3 separate regions of the Homo sapiens genome follow, and regions 2 and 3 are each linked to region 1. The links come from fine-mapping of genetic effects on gene expression. A gene starts in region 1. Each other region holds a variant in brackets. All regions are shown on one strand. Distances are between the middles of the regions. Region 1 holds the start of CASD1 (CAS1 domain sialic acid O acetyltransferase 1). Region 2 overlaps COL1A2 (collagen type I alpha 2 chain). Region 3 has its middle 33 kb from the start of CASD1.

What was found. PIP is the estimated chance that this variant, and not a neighbour inherited with it, causes the effect.
Region 2: its variant is fine-mapped to the expression of CASD1 in transverse colon (GTEx, PIP 0.92).
Region 3: its variant is fine-mapped to the expression of CASD1 in breast (GTEx, PIP 0.99).

The regions. Positions count from the first base shown.
Region 1 is chr7:94,505,605-94,513,792 of GRCh38, forward strand. CASD1 (CAS1 domain sialic acid O acetyltransferase 1) reads left to right here and starts at 4,205. Exons shown (of 18, transcript NM_022900.5): 1 at 4,205-4,613. The coding sequence starts at 4,481. RefSeq lists enhancers at 3,490-4,478, 4,479-5,465 and silencers at 3,999-4,218, 4,259-4,408, 4,509-4,868.
Region 2 is chr7:94,427,846-94,436,013 of GRCh38, forward strand. COL1A2 (collagen type I alpha 2 chain) reads left to right here. Exons shown (of 52, transcript NM_000089.4): 49 at 1-40; 50 at 448-632; 51 at 1,343-1,585; 52 at 2,402-3,382. The coding sequence ends at 2,548. Among named protein-coding and RNA genes, the nearest start is that of COL1A2, 37 kb to the left of the region's middle. The variant T/C (reference allele first, on the strand shown) is at 4,338.
Region 3 is chr7:94,472,465-94,480,652 of GRCh38, forward strand. No RefSeq gene overlaps it. Among named protein-coding and RNA genes, the nearest start is that of CASD1, 33 kb to the right of the region's middle. The variant A/G (reference allele first, on the strand shown) is at 4,627.

The DNA.
Region 1 (8,188 bases):
TGATTCACCCATCTTGGCCTCCCAAAGAGCTGGGATTACAGGCTTGCACACCTGGCCAAAACCCTATACTTTAGATGAGTAGAAGGCAGAGTAGAAAGAAGATGAGTCAAAGATTAGCAGAAATGACTTGAAGGATAGTGTGCCAATGAACTAAAGGGAAAATTAAAAGGATAAACAAGGTTTAGAAGGAAAATAAAACTTGTTTTCCAACATATTGAGTCTGAGGTACTATGCGAGTCATTGAAGCTGTCCCTTAGGTATATGAAAATGAGAGGACCATGAGAAGCCAGGTTGCACGTGTGGATCAGGAGTGATAGTTGAGGCCAACTTACAATTTAGGTTTGCTAAGAAGAGAAGTAGGCAAATGAGAAACCTGAAAAGCGCTTTTAAAAAGGGGCTTTGAGAAAGGAAGAGGAATCTTCGGAGATGCATGAGAAAGGTAAGAGGAGAGATTTGAATAAAGCAAATATTTCAAGAAAGCTGCACAGCCAAGAAGGATAAAGCTAAGATAAATATGTTGAATTTGGTAATTTAGGATGTGGCCCTCATTTGAAAGAGTGGTTTAAGTAAGTAAAGTAGTAGGGACATAAGTTAGTTTTCATGTAAAGAACTGAAAAATAGTAAAAACAATTTTTTTAATGGGGAAAGTAACCACAAACTGTTCCTTCAGAAGTTTGGTGGTGAAAAAAGAGAGATTGTGTGGTGCATTAAGGAAGATAGGATGAATTTGGCAAACAATGAAGAGAGATAAATTAAAGGTAGAAATAAGGAAGGGGAACTTAGGAGACCAGATTCTCAATGAAATGATATTGGTATAATCATACACACAGGTGAGAGTGACAGTTTTGGGAAAGGGGAGGAGGAATTTTTCTTTGAATCAGAAGGGAAAAGATAAAGTGTAGCAGTTTGTTTTAGAGTAATACATAGGGCCGGCTTTGTGGCTCATGCCTGTAATCCCAGCACTTTGGGAGGCCGAGGCGTGTGGATCACCTAAGGTCAGGAGTTGGAGGCCAGCCTGGCCAGCACGGTAAAACCCCGTCTCTACTAAACATACAAAAATTAGCCAGGCGTGGTGGTGCACACCTGTAGTCCCAGCTACTCGGGAGACAGGCAGGAGAATCATTTGAACCTGGGAGGCAGAGGTTGCAGTGAGCCAAGATCACACCACTGCACTCTAGCTTGGGCGACAGAGTGAGACTCCATCTCAAAAAATAAAAATAAAAATAAAAATAATGCATAGGTTGAGAGAGTTTCTGTCAGATGGTTTCTGTCTCTCTCTTTTTAAAATATTATTAAGGTGTGAGGTAACATGCTGAGCATTAGTAAACATTCTGGATAGCTCAGGGGTCAGGAAATAAACGTGGAGCCACTAACTAGTTTTTAGCAGGAAATGACATTACGAGATTTTAATTTAAGAAAGTTCTGTCTGGTAAGAGGTATGGCAGAATGGCAGTAGGGTTGGATTTTCGAGTGACCTGAGAAAGACGAGTAAAAGGATAAGAAATGCAGGCAAGAAATCATCCCTTAACCAAGGTAACAGCAAGTGGATAGAGAGGGGGCAACACAGTTGAGAGTTATTTAGAAGAAAGCAAGGATGACTCAAACACTTGCTTGGACGGCTGGGTTAATGATGAAAACTTAGGCATAAAGGTTGAAAGTAGATAAAGGAGAAGGAAGGTGATGAGTTTGTTTAGGAAATGATATATATTAGGTACCTGAAGGATATCCTAGTAGGCAGATGGTTCTTACAGCATGAGGATAGATAAATATGGACTGACATATCAGGTGTGTGTGTGTGTGTGTGCGCGCGCGTGTGTATAAGGAAGGTGATCCCATGGCAGTGGTGGGACCACTAAATAATGACTAAGTGATCCTAAGGTCACTTAAAAACAGCAAGAAGTGGCTGAAAACAAAGTCTCCGCTCTGTTTTAGATGGATACCAAATAAGGAAGAATGGTCAACAATGTCAGGTGCCACAAAATGGTCCAGGAAGATAAGGAATATAAAGTGTCCCTTGGATTTAACAAGTAGTCATACCACACAGCCTTGGTGAAGAACAATGAAATGGCTGAAGAGAGAATGCTAATTGAGCCAGTGAAGGCAGAGAGTCAACACTGCTCTTTCTAGATGTTTGCCAGAGGAGGAAAGAGTTGATGAGGTAAACATGCAGGAACAGAGTCCATGGGTGTTTTTCATTAAAAAAAAATTTTTTTTGGAGGAAGGCAAACAGCAAGGTGATAGGGAGAATTGGAAGACACAGAAAAAGAATGATTTGCATGGGGATAACTGATGGAGGAATCAACACCCTCAAGAAAGGAGGATAAGAAAAGATTCAGAGCAGAGGTAGAGAGATTGGCCTTAAACTTGAGAGAAGAAAAAGGAGGTTCACAAGCTATTTACAGTATTTAAGAAAGCCTTCTGGAAATTGCAATTAATAGAATGTCAAGTTTCTTTACTTTTTGCAGGCATTAACTCAACCCTTTGGGTTAACACTGGTTATTGCATGCTGATCAGAAATTCTAATTTGCTGGTAATGACATCATAGAAATGTCTAGGATGTGATTGGCAGACCATATATTGTTGGCAGAGTTATCTGGTTTTTACAATACCCAATTCTTACAACATGTGATCAACCTCTGATCAGAATGACAGCCAAAATTAAAAGACTATTTGCAGGGAACAGTGCCTAAGTGTTTGTACACTTATTTAACTTTATTGCTTATTAGCATTACATCCATGACAGTGATGTATGTGATTTCATTTAAGTGACAAAATCTTTCAAGATATAAAGTCCATGGATGAAAACATAATAAAGAGTCCTTGGATGAAGAGAATGGGAATGAGTAGACAAGATCTCTACAGTCCCTTCATATCTAATATTCTATAATTTTAAGAGGGGCCTATAAGCACAAGTTCAGGAATGGCTAAATGGGAAAGTTGTAAAGAATACTTGACAACACCCCAACTAAACAATGACTCACTCTAAACAAGGCAAGGCAAGTAGAATGGCAAGCAATGTAAATAACCATTCCCATCTGGAAGGCAACAAGAAAAACCATTTAAAAAAGGTGGGGTGGGAGCGAGAGGAGAGTAGGGATAACAATGCTTTATTAAGGAAATGGAGTGCTGGCTTTATTGAGAATCACAAAACATTAACCAACGTTAGTAGCGGGGATGATTGTCATAAGCACATTAAGAAAAATTTTTTTTGGCTAGGCTTGGTGGCTCATGCCTGTAATCCCAGCACTTTGGGAGGCCGAGATGGGCAGATCATTTGAGGTCAGGAGTTCGAGACCAGCCTGACCAAAATGGTGAAACCCCCGTCTCTATTAAAATACAAAAATTAAACGGGTGTGGTGGCGGGCGCCTGCAATCTCTGCTACTCGGCAGGCTCAGGCAGGACAACCATTTGAACCCAGGAGGGGGAGGCTGCAGTGAGCGAAGATCACGCCACTGCACTAGAGCTTGGGCGACAGGGTGAGACTCCCTCTCAAAAAAAACGAATTTTTTTGGCACATCGACCTAGCCAAACTTGCGTAAATACAAGTGAGAGTCAGACTCTTTTCTCATCAACACCTACACTAAGTTAGGCTCCTTCTGTACCTTCCATTCGGAACTTTGGTGTACTTTCGCCCACCAGAACTGGGCAAACTGAGGACATTAAAAAAACGGTTTAAGAGAAACTGGCCAGAGCGGTGAGTTAAGTGTTAAGACTGGTTTCACTCCTGGGTTGGATGCCAGCAATCCATCGGCCAGCACCATCAACTGGATCCATCAATCCAATCTGGCCAGCACCCAGGGGCAGCCAGACTGACCAGCCAGGCCACGGATAGCCAGACAATAAACGACCTTAGGGTGTCCTTCGCATCCCGCTGGGCGGGTTCTGGCAGTAGAAGGCTGAGAAAGGGGAGTGTTGGGGAAGGAAGGAATGGGACGATGTGTACTTTTCTCCCGGAACTGTAGTTCTATTGCCCCAACCTGGGCTCAGGTAGCGGCCAGTAAACTAGGAGACAGCCCTAAGGCTCGCGTCCGGGCCAGGCGGGTACCCCTAGTACTCTCTCCCCACACCCCCATGGCTCTGCCGCAGCCGCCGCCGCCCGCCGGGGCGCGTGACCCGGTGACCCCGGAGCACTGGGCATCCGGACCCCCCTCGCAGGCGCAGCCGCTATTAAGGCAGGAGGCTAAAGAGGAGGAGGAAGGGGAGGAGACAGGCGTCCAGGGCGCCTGGGGAACCGGCACGGCGGAGCAGCGGCGGCGGGGCTGGGGGGAGGCCGCCGAGTCGGCCGCGGCCGAGGAGGGGCAGGCGGAGGTCGGGGGCGCCGCGGCCGCGGGGTCAGGTTCCCCGGCGGGAGGCGCAGGTGGCGGCCTGGGGAGCTGGCGGCCGCTCCTCGCCTGGCTGCAGCGGCGGCAGCCCCAGTGCTGCCCCTGTGCGGCGCCCCTTTCCCGCTCCGCCGCGCACTGTTGTCATGGAGGAACCAAGATGGCGGCTCTGGCCTACAACCTGGGCAAGCGGGAGATCAACCACTACTTCAGCGTGAGGAGCGCCAAGGTGCTGGCGCTGGTGGCCGTGCTGCTGCTCGCAGCGTGCCACCTCGCCTCCCGCCGCTACCGAGGTGAGCGGGCCCTCCCCTCTGCCCGGGCAGGCCGTGGGGGAGGCGGCGACGCGGCGGCTGGAGGCCGCCCCCATCGCCCAACACACGCCCACGCGGCCTTCCGCCGGCCCGGCCCGCGGGGGAGGCGGTTCCCCCAGGTGTCCCCAGCAGCGGCCGGCGCCCGAGGCCAACTGAGTGGACCCCAGTGGGGGCCACCAAAGGACAATGGCTGGTGGTTCTGGGCGCCCCGAGCCGCCCGCGCTGGGGTCGGGGGCGCCAACCCTGGACCTGGCCAAAAGTGCTGCTGAGGTCCGGCTCCTGAGCGGTCTGGGTTCGGGGAGACGCTCCAGATCAGGGGCTCGCGTGCAGGAAGTCGGACAGGCGGTCCTTGGGGGCAGCCCGGGGCGCATGAAGCCCAAGGCCGCCCTGCAAGGGGCACCGCTGCCAGCAGTGGGGTCGCAGGTCCTGCCTCTTAAGGGTCCGGCTCCTTAGCCTTTGTTTAATTTTGCCTCTGCCCTGTAACACCCAGTCTGGGCTGTTGGACAGCGGCAAGGGCCGCCCCCATTTTCCTTTGCCAAAAGGGCGACAGCTGGCAAAAGATGCCTGTGGCCAAATGGAAGAGGTGCCACCCAGCTTTTGTGATGCAGAAACGTTTAAAGGCTTCGGAGTGCACACTTTTTACAAAGTTAAGGCACCAGAGCAGATTTTTGGAAGGAAGTTGTGGGTTGACAGGCGTAAAGGTGGGCAGTTGAAAGCAAGTTGTAAGCACTTTGAAAGCAGGCCTTGGCCATGGGTTTTGAAATTGGTGTAAAGGGGAAAAGGAAATATGACCTGATTTGAGAATGAATTATCTTTCAGTAATCAAGGGATATTTACTTCTCCTTGCTGATTGATTGTTTTTTTTCCTTTGTAAAAATGTCACTGGGAGAGAGGCTGACAGGCAGAGGGAAATTAATAATGATAGGATCTTTTATTTTTGGCTCTTAATACTATCAAAGCCATTATCTGGCCAGCTCTTGGTGACTGTGAGATTAATCAGTCAAGATGTAATGTGTAATGGACAGGTGCAAATTAGCGCTGTGCCCGTTTAAATTTACACCTACTTTGGCAAAATATCCATAAACGGGTTGTTGGAGTCTGCGCTGTATTCTCATCCCAGGAGATCTTTCAATTTTGGTCAGTTTTGCTGCTTTATTTCTTCCAACTCTTGAGAATTAAAAATATTGTACTCTAGAGCCATACTGGGTGAACAGCTTTTAGTATACTAAATTGATTTTAAAAATTAGATTCTTTATAACCTTTTGGCCTCTCTCCAGCTCTCTCCAGATCACAGCCATACGACCTTGCAAGGCCTTGGTTTATCTACAATCATGTAAAACTAGCAATGTTGATGCATTGATTTGTGGTGGTTTTGAGGAAATATTTCTTTTAACTACTATTAATCATTTTATGCCAATTTGGTATAAAAGAACAGTAATTTAATTCAATTTATGTAATGGTAGTAGAGAGAAATTTTATAACTACAGTACTATTGTCCTAAGATAAATAAACATCTAGTCCCCTTCCTTTTATTTTTTTGTGCTTTTTATCTTTTGATAACCTTGGACTACTATTATTTTTAGATTATAGATTTCATCTTATCAAGATCTGTCATCAGCAGGGAGAATAGAATGTCAGATGGGGACTTATGAGTCAGTGTAGCAATCTGGGATTGTTTATAAAGCCTTCTCCAGAAGTAAGTCATCAGTTTCCATAGGTACTTCAGTGCCTTGAGTGTGAAGCATACACCTGGTGAGTGTACTTGCCCAGACTGAATGTCAAGAATTTGAGCTGAAGACTGGGAAAAATAAACATCTTACCAGGAATATCCTCATGCTTTGGCAGTATCAAACTGAGTCAGGTGCAATGCCCTTCACACAAAGATAATCATACATTTGACTCACATTATAACTCTTTAGGACAGAGGTGGCCAATCTTTTGGCTTCCGTGGGCCCCATTGGAAGAAGAAGAACTGTCTTTGGGCCACACATAATATTAACACTCATGATAGCTGATGAGCTTAAAAAAAATTGCAAAAAATCTCGTATCATTTAAAGAAGGTTTACGAATTTGGGCTGCATTCAAAGCCATCCTGGGCCTCCAGCAGCCCAGGCCATGGCTTGGAAAATCTTGCTTTAGAATAAGAAAGGATCTTACATTAGATGAAGGAGATTAGGCTGTGTATTTGGATTTTGAATGTGTGAGTATGAGTGTGCTGAGGCAAGGTAGAGTGAATGCAGTTTGGATATACATATTCAGTATCTCTTGCTTTACAAACTACCGAAAGTAAAGGAAAGAATTACCCACTACAGAAAGTAAAGCTTGGCGAATACTGTGTGCTAACGTTGAGCACTTATATGTCAGGGACTGTTCTACTAAAGGTTTTACATGTTTTAACTCATTTTGTCTTTATAACCATTCTATGAGGTAGATACAATTACCATATTTCACTCCTCTCCACTATTTTTAACATCTTTGTAATCAGGGTGAGTCTTTAAAACTTTGATTGCATGTCAAAGTTTAATTGGTAACATTTTTTTCTTACTGTGACATAAAATAATCATGTGTCTAATAATCAGTGGTCTTAGATTCAGTGAATTACAGTATTATTTCCATTTTAAATATGAAGCATGACAGATTAAATTGCCTAAGGATACACAGTGACTGAGCTAGGATTTAGATCCCAGTTAGTCTGTCTCATGCCTTATGTTACAGTCTGTCTTTCTCAGAACTTCTTAGACAGTGGGGAGTATAGAAGATAGAGGGAGAAAGCATTTTCCAGGGAAGCATGGGTTAAACAACTTAGAAACAGTAATTCAGGCCGGGCGCAGTGGCTCACGCCTATAATCCCAGCACTTTGGGAGGCTGAGGCGGGTGGATCACCTGAGGTCAGGAGTTCAAGACCAGCGTGGCCAACATGGTGAAACCTCTTCTTCTTCAATTAGCTGGGCGTGGTGGCGGGCACCTGAATCCCAGCTGCTCAGGAGGCTGAGGCAGGGAGAATCACTTGAACCCAGGAGGCAGAGGTTGCAGTGAGCCAAGATCGCATCCCAAAAAAAAAAAAAAAAAAAATCAACTTTATTGTACCAGCTAAGAGTTTTTCTATTTTTTTTTCCAGTCAGGAGGTAATTTTCTAAAAGTTGTTTGTGTAAAGCTTCAAAATCTGACCTGAGCCTACTTTTTGTTACCTATGTTTTTTCCTTATTTTCCCCAAATTCCAGGTTCACAATCTAAACGTGCTTTGCCCGTTTATACGTCTCACAGTTATTTGATTTTCTCTGCCTGCAGTGACTTCTCTCTTGAAAGAAAATATAGGTTTTTCCTTCAAGGCCTGGTTCAAATGTCACACCCACAGCAGTAGGAATTAGCAGTTCAGTTCTGCCAGCAACTTACACATACTTATTGTGTTGTATTGTAATAATTGGTATCTGCCTACCCACACAAACTGTTGAGCTTCCAAGAGTATCTTACTCATCTTTAAACCTTTAAATCATCAGAGCCTAACACACAATAGGAAATCCTTAAATAACTGTGGATAAATAGATTTCAAAGTCCTT
Region 2 (8,168 bases), 78 kb before region 1:
TGCCGTGACTTGAGACTCAGCCACCCAGAGTGGAGCAGTGGTAGGTCAAGATGTCCAGACCAGACTGACCCTTCTCACAAGTTGAGCTTTTCAAAATTAGTTTCCATTGACATTTAGAGTGAAAATGCATTTGGGTAAAGATTACATTATGTGAAATCACACCCAATTAATGGAGCGTCATCTTCTCCCAACCAGCACCCAACCTCATTTCCCTTAAAATGTATTTTTGCACTTTTCATAGTAATAAGTACCCTGATTTGATTTTTCATGGAGGAGGGGAGGGAAGGAACTGTCTAATCTTAAAAATAGCCACCCTCTTCCTCTTAAATATGGGGTAGACAATCAAAAATGTTACTTATGAGAGTCAGTATCTTTCATTAGTTATTATTAGAATCTGTGTTCTGCTCAATGAGAAGTTTCATGATCTGAATGTTATTTTCTTAAAAGGTTACTACTGGATTGACCCTAACCAAGGATGCACTATGGATGCTATCAAAGTATACTGTGATTTCTCTACTGGCGAAACCTGTATCCGGGCCCAACCTGAAAACATCCCAGCCAAGAACTGGTATAGGAGCTCCAAGGACAAGAAACACGTCTGGCTAGGAGAAACTATCAATGCTGGCAGCCAGGTGAGGAATCCCACAAACACCTCTCCTTCTGCTAAATAATATTTTGGTAGGACTGTTTGTTAATTATCTGCATTTTAATCTCTGACAAAAATGGGCTTATTAAAAAAAGACCTGTTCCTTTCCTGGGTTCCAATTTTGTCCTAAATTGCACATTAGAAGATGGATTGATTGGACACATCCATGTAATTCAAAGTTATTATTCAAATTTGACTTAATTGGTAATCATTGAAAAAACTGACTAATGTCATTTAGTGTGAAGGAGCACTGGCCAGCTATATGCCACACTCATACATATGCATTTTCAGAATGTGAGCAGCTTTTCTGAATTTTTAATCAAACCTTTTCACCAACTTTACTGAATGCCTACTGGAATTCCATAAATTACAAAATGACAGAAAAAGAAAAATGTCAGAATTTCTACCTCCTCATTCTCTTATTCTAAAGAAGAAGCATATGCAAAAAGGATTAATTGAAACAGATAACTTTTTTAGATGACCTTGCCTCAGTCTAGTAGGTCTTATGTTCATCTAGGTAACTGATACTTCAAAGACAAGTGAATTAAGTTTTCTTTAAAAGTACCCTTTTCCTAAGCTTGGATCTGAGTCTACTCTTCCTGAGATCTTTTTTTTTCTTTTTTTTTTTTTTCATGTTTGACTCTTAGTATCTGAGTCCTTCTCCACTTAACTGGAATTTCATCCTATTTTCTGTAGTTTGAATATAATGTAGAAGGAGTGACTTCCAAGGAAATGGCTACCCAACTTGCCTTCATGCGCCTGCTGGCCAACTATGCCTCTCAGAACATCACCTACCACTGCAAGAACAGCATTGCATACATGGATGAGGAGACTGGCAACCTGAAAAAGGCTGTCATTCTACAGGGCTCTAATGATGTTGAACTTGTTGCTGAGGGCAACAGCAGGTTCACTTACACTGTTCTTGTAGATGGCTGCTCTGTAAGTAATAGTGAAATATGGGAATAGCTTTGGGAAGTGGGATGGAGGGGGTTCTAACTTAGACTGCCCCCAAGGGGGGGTCTAAAGGGGGGTTAAAAGAACAGAAGAATGAGAGAACTAACTTATTTCATAAGTAAATTCAGTTTTTGTATGTATTTTATATTTATTTATTTATACGTATTAATTTCGTACTTAAATTCAGATGATAAATTCAGAGTATTCTTATCAGATAGTGCCTTCTGAAATGCTGAAATGTATACTATGTCCATGCATTGTTTTTTCTTTAGCATGTTTTTTAAATGGTAATGTGTGCCCAGAACTTAAAATTTCTTGAGACTTCAGTGGCCTAAACTATAATTTATAGTTATGTGTATTTTATTTTACTTATTAGTATGGCCTACATTTAACTTTTAATGCTTTTTCTACAATATGCTATAAATATAAGAAAAATTAAAATTCACTAACAGCAAGACTACATACCCACCCAGGTCCCGCTCCCAAAGACACACATAGAGGGACATACACACAACAATCCTAAAAATGACTTTGTAGAGATAGGTCACTTGGAATGTGTGTTGAAATGTTGTTGGTTTTTTTGGTTTGTTTGTTTGTTTGTTTTTTGTTAGACTGATAGGGAGCCCCTCCCACTAAAGACACCCTTGATACTGTTATTTCAAGGATGAACTTATTTATCTGGGACAGACATCTTCAGAATGACACATGCCAAACAGTGGTTCTTATTAAATCAAAGGTTCAGATATTATCAGATTCAGAAATAGTGATGCTTTGTGTATCTATTTTCTTCTCTTTAAACAGAAAAAGACAAATGAATGGGGAAAGACAATCATTGAATACAAAACAAATAAGCCATCACGCCTGCCCTTCCTTGATATTGCACCTTTGGACATCGGTGGTGCTGACCAGGAATTCTTTGTGGACATTGGCCCAGTCTGTTTCAAATAAATGAACTCAATCTAAATTAAAAAAGAAAGAAATTTGAAAAAACTTTCTCTTTGCCATTTCTTCTTCTTCTTTTTTAACTGAAAGCTGAATCCTTCCATTTCTTCTGCACATCTACTTGCTTAAATTGTGGGCAAAAGAGAAAAAGAAGGATTGATCAGAGCATTGTGCAATACAGTTTCATTAACTCCTTCCCCCGCTCCCCCAAAAATTTGAATTTTTTTTTCAACACTCTTACACCTGTTATGGAAAATGTCAACCTTTGTAAGAAAACCAAAATAAAAATTGAAAAATAAAAACCATAAACATTTGCACCACTTGTGGCTTTTGAATATCTTCCACAGAGGGAAGTTTAAAACCCAAACTTCCAAAGGTTTAAACTACCTCAAAACACTTTCCCATGAGTGTGATCCACATTGTTAGGTGCTGACCTAGACAGAGATGAACTGAGGTCCTTGTTTTGTTTTGTTCATAATACAAAGGTGCTAATTAATAGTATTTCAGATACTTGAAGAATGTTGATGGTGCTAGAAGAATTTGAGAAGAAATACTCCTGTATTGAGTTGTATCGTGTGGTGTATTTTTTAAAAAATTTGATTTAGCATTCATATTTTCCATCTTATTCCCAATTAAAAGTATGCAGATTATTTGCCCAAATCTTCTTCAGATTCAGCATTTGTTCTTTGCCAGTCTCATTTTCATCTTCTTCCATGGTTCCACAGAAGCTTTGTTTCTTGGGCAAGCAGAAAAATTAAATTGTACCTATTTTGTATATGTGAGATGTTTAAATAAATTGTGAAAAAAATGAAATAAAGCATGTTTGGTTTTCCAAAAGAACATATTGAGTAAAATTCCTTGCTTCAATGCTCTTTGCAATATAAATATGCATCTCTACCAGCCATTAGACCAAGTGCCTCTGATTAGATAGAAATTATGCAAAAAGGGCAGTTTGGTGTGGTAGAAAGAGCAGAGAACGAGGACCCAGGAGAGCTGAACTCCAGTTCTGGCTCTGTTCCTTGTGGCTGAGTGACCTTGAAACTCTGAGCCTCTGCATTTCAGTTTCCATAGCTATAATATGAAAAAATTCCTTTTCAGCACTATTAAGCATTTGCCCTACTCAAAATATGTAATATTTAAGCAACATGGCATTTTTGACCTAATTTTACTATAACCAAAGGTCTATAGAAACTTGGTTTATTATATATTAAGCACTTTATAACAGTGGCTGAAAGTTGGTCTATGAGCAATTAATACTATTAACTAAAACAGTTTCAAATATTCAGTAAAAATGCCATACACTTAAATCTGAGGCAACTGAATACAATGCCTGTTAAGAGGTAATGTGTGTGCTGTCAATCAGGATAGACAGTTGTGGATAATAGTACCACGAACACCTACCTGCCAAATCAAGTTCATTTTCCTCCCCTGCACCTTTCAATAACATCTTTAATACACTTAAACATAGTAATGTGTCAAGTAAAATGTTAAGATTCATTTAGAGCTTATTTCCTGTTGCAGAACATAATTGTGATTGTAATATTTGCCTTGTGTTATAAGTCATCTCAAGATTCAATTAGTTTTAAAGGCAAAAGACTGAACATGGTAAAAATGTAATATTAACCTTAAAAAGTTAGCAAGGTCTCCTAATCAAAATGCAGATTCCTGGTCCTCATCTGCCAAATTCAGATTTAGTAAGAAATTGCTATTCTTACGCATCCTGTGAAATTCAGATGTGCACCAATTGAAGGACCACCTGATGAGGTTACTGCCATAGTCCTTTGTAGCTCTAATA[T/C]TCTGTGTCTGACAAGAAGGAATATATATATCTGACCAAACCATATATAAAGATAACTCCTGGGATCCGAATGCTGGTACTCTCTATAAATTAGTAATTAAAATGACCATGCAAACTTACATGATAAAACAGAAATCTCTGGATCAAATATGAACTATACCCTCAGACTTATAGCAAAAAAAAATAAAACGCATTTATTGAGTACCTGCTAGAGGCAAAAGCCATGCTAAATAATAATAATGACCTTTGTCAAACTGAATCTGAATTAGCAGATTTCCTAAGCCAATGCTCACTTAATAATCACTTAATCATCATCAGTGTGAGACAACTGAAAATAGTCAAATAAATAATGGTACACCTAATGGATTACAATGAGGAAACAAATTATGGTATATCCAGTAAACAATGAGGAAACAAATTACAGTATATCTAATAGATAACGATAGGATGAATAGTGAAATAAATTTTGGTATCCCAATAACATTTATAAGGATGATTTAACAAAAGAAAAACTTCTTAGAATAGAATTTTCAATCTTGAAAATCTAATATTCAAGAACACTGTCATTATAATTAGATATTTTAAATATACATGTAAAAAAATGCTGAGAGTAGGCACATTTGTATAGAAGTTTAAGGATGATTTTTAGGCCTAAAATTTTCAAATTTGCAACAATGTAGCTATATTACATTATTATTTACAACAAATTTACTCTTAAAATATTATGAAAGAAGCAGTCAAAAGTGAAAAGAATCTGGTTCAGGAGTAGCCATCTCCAGGGAAGGAGTGGTCAACCTCCCACCCACCTGTTTCCTGAAGAGAAGGACAAGCCTGGCCTAAGGGTCATCATCCACCATGGACCAGCCATCCTGAGAGAAGCTTGGGAGGGTGTACAAAGCTCTACCAGGCCACAGCATCTTCAGGGAGCTCAGGGAGCTTATAGTGCGGTTCCAGAGGCAGAATAAAATAATGTGTGAACAGAATTTTAAATTACATATCCTCTGAGGATAACAGAAGACACTATTAATTAATTAGAGGGAGTCTCGGGAAATTAACCTTTGTCTCACACAGTAACTGATATTTGGATTGAACTGGCCTCTCTTGATAGAGATCTCATTTCACCTTCAAGCTCTCTGGCTCAATCCTTCTTCTCTGGAAGTCACATATTAAAACAGCCTGGTACTTACCAAGCCAGGAGGTCCACTGTGAGTGTTCCCAGGGCCTAGACTCAAATGTGGACATAGAGCAATAGACTGAAGACTTGGCCCTTCCATGACGAGCCCACTCTTTAGAGGCTGATCACCAGGCCCAAAGCATACTCCTCACAACATTTCTTGACCCTTGGTGGAGTGAAGGTCAGCCACCTCTAACTTGTAGGAGTGTGAAAGGGAAGAAAATTGCACATGAAAGAGAGAAGAAGCAGGTAGCCAAGATCTAGGGAGGGGACATTAATCAAGTCTAGTAAAAAGGGTCATTTAAAATTCTAAAATCAATACAGCTAATGCATTGGCAAAGAGCAAAGATACCTGAGCAATGCTGAATACATTTATTATCTTTAATGCCAAAAGACTTTTTTATGCTATTCCACTTAATATCACTGTAAAGGAAGTTCAGAAATTGGATTATATATAAGAAAAGTTGGAAATGTCATTCTGGGTCAGAACAAAAATCCATCTAGATGAGTACTTTGCCTTTGACAGTGGCACCAGGGGAAATTTGGGAGAAAGAGCAGTTGGCACTTCTTGTGAAGCCAGCCTCAGAACTCCCATTTAATAACCCATTGTAAATCTTTTTTGTACATAGATGTATCTAAACCCTTCCAGAGTCCTCTATCTATTTTGAAATATGTTGGTATTACAGTACCAACAGGAGAGAGCTAGTGCTGAATTGTTAGCTCAGCTTCCTAACCCTCTGATCAAGTAGCTAAAATATGTTTTCTATCCTTGTGCCTGGATCAGCCAGGGATTCGACAACTCCATATCCTTAGGGAGCACTAGTAAGTCCAACAATGGGGCCATAGACAACCCATAATGAGCGACTTATCCCTGCTCTTCAGTGAAATGAGCACATAATTTGTGGTCAGCAGCCAAGGCTATGAGTATCAGCTCTGCCATTGACTAGCCCAGGGCCCTTGGGAAAGTCTCTTAAGTTTTTTGAGAATTTAGTTAACATGCCTGCTTTAGTTAACATGCCTGCTCTTAGAGATTGCCATTACCACACATATCATCTCACAGAACTGCTGGGGGTACCAAAACAGGCATGTGTGAAAGTGCTGAGTAAAGTATGCACAATAGACTTGTCATCACTAGGTCCAAAATTTCCTGGCCACTGGTGGTAGCCTCTTGATTTATTTTCTGATCACTGGCCCTCTAATTTAGGAAGAAGAGAGTGTAGAATTTACACTTAATTAGCACCACTCTCTAAAGTGGTAGTGTATCAATTTTGAGTTATGCCTCCTTATCAGTAAAAATTTGAGTTCTTACAACAAATTTACTTACTTATATATAAATGTTATGTATATATTATGGTGCTAGTATATGCAATATAAAACCTCTACAGAAAAAAAATCTGTAAAGACAGAAAATAAATACACATAGAAGGGTCCATAGTCCAGTGGATCATTCTGCACGCCCCTGGGATGCATGCACCACCCCCTTCCATTTTAGAGAGTATTGCACTAAACAAGGATGGTCTTCAGGGGAGGAGGAGCATCAATGAACTCCTGAAATCACATGTTAAATACACTTTGTGGGTATGTGCATTTTTCTTGGAAGAAAAGTCCACAAATTTCATCTGATATTCCTAGGGGTCCATGTCCCAATTAGACTTTATAAGCCACTGCACAAAAGAAGTATTATCCACATCGCTAAACCCTGGACTTTTCTGAACTATGACTTTCTCTTTTTTTTTTTTTTTTTTTTTTTTTTTTTGATGAAGTTATACTCTTGTTGCACAGGCTGGAGTGCAGTGGTGCGATCTTGGATCACTACAGCTTGAACTCCCAGGTTCAACCTACTCTACTACCTCATCCTCCCTAGTAGCTGGGATTACAGGCATGCACCACCATGCCCAGCTAATCTGATATTTTTAGTAGAGACAGGTTGTGCCACGTTGGTCAGGCTGGTCTCGAACTCCTGACCTCAGGTAATCCGCCCTTCTCGGCCTCCCAAAGTGCTGGGATTACAGGTGTGAGCCACTGCACCCGGCTTGAACTATGACTTTCATATCTCATCTTAGGTGTCTTACTCAGAACATGCTGCTTCTCCTACCCTAAGACCTGAGAGAACCAACCAGCACCAGTCCAAATGTAAATAATGGTTTGTCTTTTATTCTTCCACTTTTCTGGTATGAGTCCTCTGTCCTACGCTTTAACTAGGCTTGACATATACCTTATGACCTGTACTTTGTAACATAAAAATACACCAATCTTCAGAATCTTTTTAAAGAAGAGCAAACAAACTCAGTAATGGGGGACAATTAATTGAGCTATGCCTTTTAGGTAAAATGTGCTTGTATTAGTTTTTTTAATTTTGAAAAGTGATAGAGTTTAACCTAAAAATTATTGCAATTTCTGGCACTGTAAAATGTCTTGAGGACAATACTGTAATTGTTTTCCAGGGATCCTCAAATCACCTAATAGAACCAAATCTTTTCATCTGATTGCTCCAAAGCAAACCTATTATTCTGAGCTCCAGACATAGGATTAATTCTGGCCAAAATTAACAATCTTACTGGAATCTAGAAAGGTATCCTTAAAATTGAGATTCACCGTAAATTTAAAGACATTTTTAAGCAAAGCACACAATGCATTTTTACTATCAAAGTGAACAT
Region 3 (8,188 bases), 33 kb before region 1:
ACATGATAATTGTGCTATATATAATGCACAATACATCATGATATATGATCATATCATTATATCACATAAAGGATAGGTGGGGGAATATTAAGCCTATATGATAGTAAAGTTTCCACATTTTGTGTAGGCTAAATGTCCCTATTTACTCTAAATTAGGTACCCTATTAACTCTAAATTAAGAGTAAAAAGTTATACACATTAACCCCCAGAGCAACCACTTTACCTGGGATTATAATCTCCTAAAAAGCAAGACCTTTGCTTTATTCACTTTTCATTCTGAATCACTAACCACAGAGTAGCAAGTCTAGTGAAACTGAATAGAAATAATGAAACAATATTTGTTTAGGTGTTTTGAATCAACTTTTTAAAACTGGAATTGCTCACAATCGAAGCATAATTCTATTCATAGCACAATGTTTAGCATATAGAAAAGACATGATAAATGCAATCATAATAAGTAGTAGTGTTCTTAATGATGTCTTTGGAACACAATAATGTCATGAGTCATTCTTTCTGAATCTTCAAAGGATAATCAATTTATATTTAAATATAATCAACTTATGTATAAGAGCATGTGTTTCGAGTGCCCAAACTTGGGCTTGAGTTTCAGTGATTACCTACATGACTTCTCAATTTATTTACATGTAAAGTGAGATGATGATTTTAAAAGCTTACTTTACAGACCTGTTTAGAAAATTAAATGAAATTTCATGTAAGTTGTTTAACATAGCACTTGGTACAAAGGAAGTGTTCAATTAATATTGGCTGCACTTATTGAAGGAAGCTTTAGGATTGATGATACTCAATACAAACTCTTTAAAAATGTGTAATCCATAGCTAATCATATATAAATCAACTCTGTACTAGTCAGAATATCTGATTAATCAGAATTTTCATTCCCAAACTTTGGGAGATCACTGTGTCATTTAACTCCACCATGTATGAAAGCCTCCACATTTTCAAACCATTAACAAATAAAAAACAAGAATGGTGCTACTATCGTATCAGATGAAATAACAGCAACATGGGTCAACAATTTCTTAGAAAACCCCATGGGACCTGATGTCCTTTGGAATTCAGAATGTCTTGGATCTAAGTAAGTTGTGAATTATCTCATGTAACAACCCCAAGGGGTATGGCAGTAGCTCTTAATGAAACGCATTAATACTTCTACCATCCTACATATGAATATTCATGCAAAGTGGGATAAGTGAAGTTTATAAGTTGTCACAGATCAGTTCCGGTCAGATCTTACCACTGAATGAGTTTGCTACAAGATGAACCAATTGTTTTCAGCTTTTCAATTTCAGAATTGCACATAAGGGATTGCAGACTTAAGAAAACAAACACTTATATTGCATTAATCATGAGCCAGGCATGTTCTAAATGCTTTACATATCAACATATTGATCCACAGCAAGCCTATCAGGTAGACATTATGATTATCCCCATGTTACAAATGAGAAAACTGAGGCACAAAAAGGTTAAGTAATTTACCCACAGTTGCATACTGAATAAGGTGTATAAAGAATGAGGATTCTGTTCTGGAGCTTATTCCTTAATCATCTTGCTATGTTGGTTCTTTGAAATCTAATTTATGTCCTAATTATCTGTAAAGTAATGTATTTAAAGGTCATCTTAAATAACAATTTCTAAATTCAGCAGGATATCAGTCAGCATCTGGCCCAAGGGACCCTTAAGACTGTAGAAAAATTTTCCTGCTCTGCAGGCACCCTTGCACTGTGAACAGAAATAGAAAATCTTACTCAAGTACCAATATGTACAATATTCACCAATATGTACCAATACCACATTTGTTTTTCTCTGCCATACTGGCAGTGAAAGAAATAGCAGGGGTGAGAAATTGGTGGGGGAGGCAAGCAGAATGGAAAATAACATGTGAAAAGCAATAGAATCCCAAGTGGGTAGCTTTGCTCCTTCCCATGTGTTCATTTTTACTTTTGGAAGAACAGGGTGGCAGGTTGTCTGGGCTTGACTAGAAGTCACATTGCATTGAGTCTCCTGGACCTCCTCTTGAGGAATTACATAAAAGTCACATTAGAATGCTGGTTATTGATTTAGAACATTTCTCACCTCTGATTCACTGAATGATTTGAATACAACTTGAAAAGCTTTACCAGAGTTTTCTGTATCTTAAATTCAACTACAAACATACAATGGCTTCTGTGATGTCTCTGTAGTGACTATAACAAATCATCATCTCTTCTTTGAAAACCAAGTGATCAGCACTTTCCAAATGTAATTTCTGTGTAGGTATATATTAACCATATTCCATTCCCATATCTACTGTTTAGCTGATTGCCTTTACAATATAGGACATTACAGTTAAAGGTACATTTTTAAAAATTAGATGTTTTCACTGCTAGTCAGAGACACAAAGTATTTATTGTGTCCTGTATCCCAGATATAGTCAAATCTAGACTATGCCTAAAAAGTTGAACATAATTTTAATTATATATCTAATTCCTGTTGGAAAACAATCTGCCTTATTTTATACTCTTGTTTTAGTATTCTCATTTCATGCCCTGGGCCCCCAGGTAATCACAACCTTAGCTGTTACATTTGAAAGACAAGTTATGTGAGATTAGATTTGATTCTGCTTGGTGAAAATGTTAGTTCACTGTAATATTGTATTTATGGTATCCAGAGATACATACATACAGAAGGTAAAGAAGTCTAAGAATCAGAGGGTACAAGAAACTGCTAATTATAAAACAATGTAAAACTAAGTTAGATGGATCCATCTTAAAAGATCTGGAAAACAAATGAGAATATAACAATAAGTGAACCACCTCCAGATCCCGGCTTGGCATACCATCAAGAAGTATTTTAAAAAATTGCTTAAGATCAAATGGACAAAAGTGGAAAAGGACAAAACTATACAGATGAAACTTTCAAATAACTCAGTAGCCCCTATTATCTCTCTCCCCAAGGGCAGAAGAGCCATTACTGCCGCTGTGGGAGAGTGAAATATTCTCCTCATTGCAGAATTGAACCAATCTCCCTCTTGTATGGGTGATCACAGCAAGGGTAAGTACACTAAGTGAATCAGGGAAAGAGATTGCCGGCAGGAATGTCTGCAGACAAGGCGTGAAAGAGCTCTTTTCTGGGTTTTATCAGGGCAATCACATTAAGGTAAGAGAAACTTTCAATCAACCAGGAAGAAAAGGTTATTATCCCAGAAGTCCTCTTTTTCACCTGGTACAATTCAACATTATGTGGTAAGAAGGAAACTAGCACTTGAACACCACAGTGGGCTAGGCACCTTGATGGGTATGTTGTTTGTGAACTCATCTGATGTTATAATAAGTTCTGTGATTGGATATCTGCTCTCATTATACTGATGAGACTAAAGCAAAGACTCCAGGTAACTCATCCACCGTCACTCTACTAGTAAGCAAGAAGATAGAATTCAAATACAGATCAGTGTAACTTCATATGTTCTTCCCACTGCTCTTGGGAAACTTTTGCCTTCCAGATTCCCTCCTTCTTTTCTTTCTTCTCAAAAATACAGACTCATTCACCTCTCTCTAATAAGAATCAGGAATTCTCCAATCTAGGACATCCTTGCTGCCCCTCAAAAAGAGACTTCTCTTCAATCGAATATTTTCCCTTGAACATCTTCAGGAAATGCCACCTACAAAGACACTTTGGATTGGCAAAGAGCAGAGTCAGGACAAAAAGACAAAACTCTTTAAAGATGTGATTTTCTGAAATGGAGGGAATGGACATTGTTTTTATTTGTAATATAAATGAATCTTGGTAGTTTGGGTTTAGATCCATTCTAGATCACCCCTCAAAGTGGTACCTGTGGACCCAGGGTTCAATCATGGCCAACAATGCCTAGACTATAGACTCTGCAGAGGATGCTGCTACACAAGGGTCTGTGGATGCATCTGGGGATGGGGGATGTGGAAGTGGACATTGAGCAATCCCCAAACCCTTTCCTTTACTTTCTTCATTGACCTTTGTCACATACCACACTTTACTGGAAATGTAAGGAAAAACAAAATTAGTGTGGGGCAAGAAATTTGAAACTATATATTAAATATGACTTTCCCAACAGTCCAGAGGTCAACCAGCTACAAGCCACAACAGAGCTTAATTTCACGTATGTTCCAATGTAGTTTGCACAATTCAGGGTATCGTCTTTGCAGTTACTAAAGCATGCGAGGGTCTGGAATCCAAGGATAAGTGCATGGACAGTGTTTACGCATATTTCATCCAGTTGGTAATGAGGGATGATGAAGTACTCTCATTACCGAATACTTCAGAGACCAGAAATTTTTCAGACCTTCAGATCTAGCATCTCTTCTGCTCCTCACCCAGATGACCCTTTCTGCCTTCTTTAACAGTAAATAACAGTCAATACATTTTTTTCATAAATTCTGTATGACTCAATTTTGTTAAGCTCTCAGCTTTTTGAGAATACGTGTGACTTCTATGTGCTGCCTAAATACACATTTTTTAAATTGTGCTTGTTATCTTAATTTATACCTCATTTTATAAAGGACACCTGGCAAGAGCGAAAGTCAATAGTAGACTTCTCCTGTACTCAGTACATAAAGGATTACAGTTTTCCCTAAGGCTGGGAGATGACGGAAG[A/G]TGGACCTTTAACGGTTAAACTTAGCACACAGTACTGATGAAAGGAGATATAAAAGCGAGAGATGAAGCTCTCAGGCCAATGAAATTGACTGCATCCTGAGATGGCATTAACTGTTAAAGAATGTTTACTGAACCTGTTTATTTTGTTGTGATTTTATGTTCATCAAGTAAGCTTCAGGTCATAATTGACATTTCATGTTCACTTATCTACACAGACAGAATGGACTGTTCATAGACTATAGTTCTCTGGTTAGTGGAACACTTCTATTTCCCATTAAAAATTAATGAATTGGCACTCAATTTTAGACATCAGCCTTGTGAGTTTGGTTTCCATGAATCTGTCACTGAGAAATGCATCCATTCTCATGAGTCGACAAAAACTTTAGGGCTTCAAGCCTAGACAAGCTCAGGGCCATATCTTTTGATAAATTCACCAAAGTAAAGCCCCCATGCATGGTTCTGCGGGGTATTTAGAGAGCCAGCTGCTGCCACCTCTCACTGACAGAGTCTGTCTTTGCATTCCTGCTTCTGAGCAATGGTGTTAACTATAGCAGCCCATTAATTTTTGGCATCCTACTCAGCCTTATGCACAGGAATCTATAACAAAAAGAACATATTCTTTACCTCTAATTGGGGAGGAAAATGCACTTTTGTTGTTTTCCCAGCCCACCTTGTGTCAGTTGTCACTTTTAGTGGGAAAAACTAAATTAAAGATGGGAAAGTCAGTAATCACCACCCTCCCTGAGCTACCAAGCACACCAAGCTAATACATAAAATAAAACACTTTAAAAAATACTCCAGACTTACAGACTTTTTCCAATTTATGATACATGTTGACTTTTGCTAGTTTTGATAAAGAAATACAAGATTATTTTCCTGTGCAATTTCCCTCGGTCTTGAACATCTGAAAGCAGACAGATTTACAAATCCATCATCAAGGTAGGATACTGTAAATACATTTTATTCATGTTTACTCATGTTATCTAGAGAAATGTTTGCTTTTCCTGCTGTTTCTGGGAAAAAGTGAGAGCTCTGCTTTACAGGACTACCACAAACAACAGTAATATAATTTCATAACAACCAACATAAAGAAGCACTTCTCTATCATTTTACAGATTATTTTGAATTCAATTAACTGATATTAATATTTCTTAAGTCCCTAATATGCACCTAGATCACCCCTCAAAGTGGTGATTGATGTTATAATAAGTTCTGTGATTGGATATCTTCTGCTCTCATTATACTGATGAGACTAAAGCAAATAATCCAGGTAACTCATCCACCATCACTCTACTAGTAAGCAAGAAGATGAAATTCAAATACAGATCTGCGTAACTTCATATGCTTGGGGGGAGGAATCCCGAAGTTTGTATTCATGAAAATGTTACATTTGAAGTAGGTTTTATGTGTTTATTTGAAATTATGTTGAAACAGAGACAGGTGGGGGTCTTCATTGGTTGTCTTATTGCTATCACAAAAATCCAGCTTATTTTCTAGAAAAATGAAATAAGATTCATAAGCCTCAGTTCTAACTATATGGTGGGCAAAAGAGAATTAAAATTTAACTCAAACATCTCAGCCACAGAAGTCTTTTGTGGTCCTAGTGGTTGTTAATAACCCTTGAAACTTATTAATCGAAGGACGGTATGCTTCTGTTGCTAGAAACTATGCAGCTTCACCATAAAGCCACCCTATTAAATTCATCAATAAAACCTTGGAGGAGGCTGAGGCAGGAAGATCGCATTAGGCCAGGAGTGGAGTTCATCCCACACACTGAATTTAGATGGCTTAGATATATTTTCTTTCTTTCTTCCTTTTTTCTTTTTCTTTCTTTCTTTTCTTTCTTTCTTTCTTTCTTTCTTTCTTTTCTTTCTTTTTCTTTCTTTCTTTCTTTTTCTTTCTTCCTTTTTCTTTCTTTCTTTCTCTCTCTGTCTCTTTCTTTCTTTCTTTCTTTCCTTTTCTCTTTCTTTCTTTCTTTCCTTTTCTTTCTTTCTTTCTTTCTGTCTTTCTCTCTTTCTTTTGGACAAGATCTCACTCTGTCACCCAAGCTGGAGTGCAGTATAGATCATGGCTCACTGCAGCCTCAGACTCCTGAATTTATGTGATCCTCCCACCTCAGCCTCCCAAAGTGCTGGGATTACAGGCATGAGCCACCATGCCCAGCCTGTATTTTTTTGTTGGCATCTTTGTTACCTTCTTTCTTTGGTGTAGCATTTTTAATCTCCCTTCTGGATCTCATCTCAACTTCTGTTTATCTAGCGTCTTTCTTTTTTTTAATTTTATTATTATTATACTTTAAGTTTTAGGGTACATGTGCACAACGTGCAGGTTTGTTACATATGTATACATGTGCCATGTTGGTGTGCTGCACCCATTAACTCGTCATTTAGCATTAGGTATATCTCCTAATGCTATCCCTCCCCGCTCTCCCCACCCCACAACAGACCCCAGTGTGTGATGTTCCCCTTCCTGTGTCCATGTGTTCTCACTGTTCAATTCCCACCTATGAGTGAGAACATGCGGTGTTTGGTTTTTTGACCTTGTGATAGTTTGCTGAGAATGATGGTTTCCAGTTTCATCCATGTCCCTACAAAGGACATGAACTCATCATTTATTATGGCTGCATAGTATTCCATGGTGTATATGTGCCACATTTTCTTAATCCAGTCTATCATTGTTGGACATTTAAGTTGGTTCCAAGTCTTTGCTATTGTGAATAGTGCCACTATAAACATACATGTGCATGTGTCTTTATAGCAGCATGATTTATAATCCTTTGGGTATATACCCAGTAATGGGATGGCTTATCCAGCGTCTTTCATAAAGTCTCTCAATAACTCCAAACTGAACTGTCTTCTCTAGTCTCTGTACTTTCTTGTCTAGTCTCTGTGACTTAATATACAGTAGACACCTGTCATTAGCCATTCTACTTCTTCATTGCACTCTAACCTCCTTTTAGGAAGTAATATCCCCTCTATGTGTATGATCAGAGTTGGAGATCACATTGGGGGTGTCTGCCTTGCGAAGTTCCCATCTCTAAGTACAGTCAGGAGGTGGCCACACGACCTAACCTTAGCCCATTGAATGCTCCTGTCCCATGCAGTGAATATGAGCAAGTGAGGCAAGAACAATATGAATGGTTGACGGTCACATACAATGACGTCAACATAACAGCAGAATCAACATAACAGCAGGCTGTTCCCACCATGCTATGGTAGCTCTATTTCAGCTTCTCTGCTCTATCCATTATCCACCCGAGTTCATTTTTATTTTATTTTATTTTTTTCTTGAGACAGGGTCTCAGTCTGTTGCCCAGGCTGGAGTGCAGTGGCATGATCATGGCTTACTGTAGCCTCGACCTGCCAGGCTCAGGTGATCCTCCCACCTCAGCCTCCTGAGTAATGGGGACCACAGACACGCACCACCACGCCTGGCTAATTTCTGTACTTTTTTTGTAGAGACTGGGTTTTGTCATGTTGCCCAGGCTAGTCTCAGCTCCCTGGTACAGCTCCCTGGTATCCTCCATATTTGCAAGCCTGGCCCCCTACCTAGCCTGCAACAT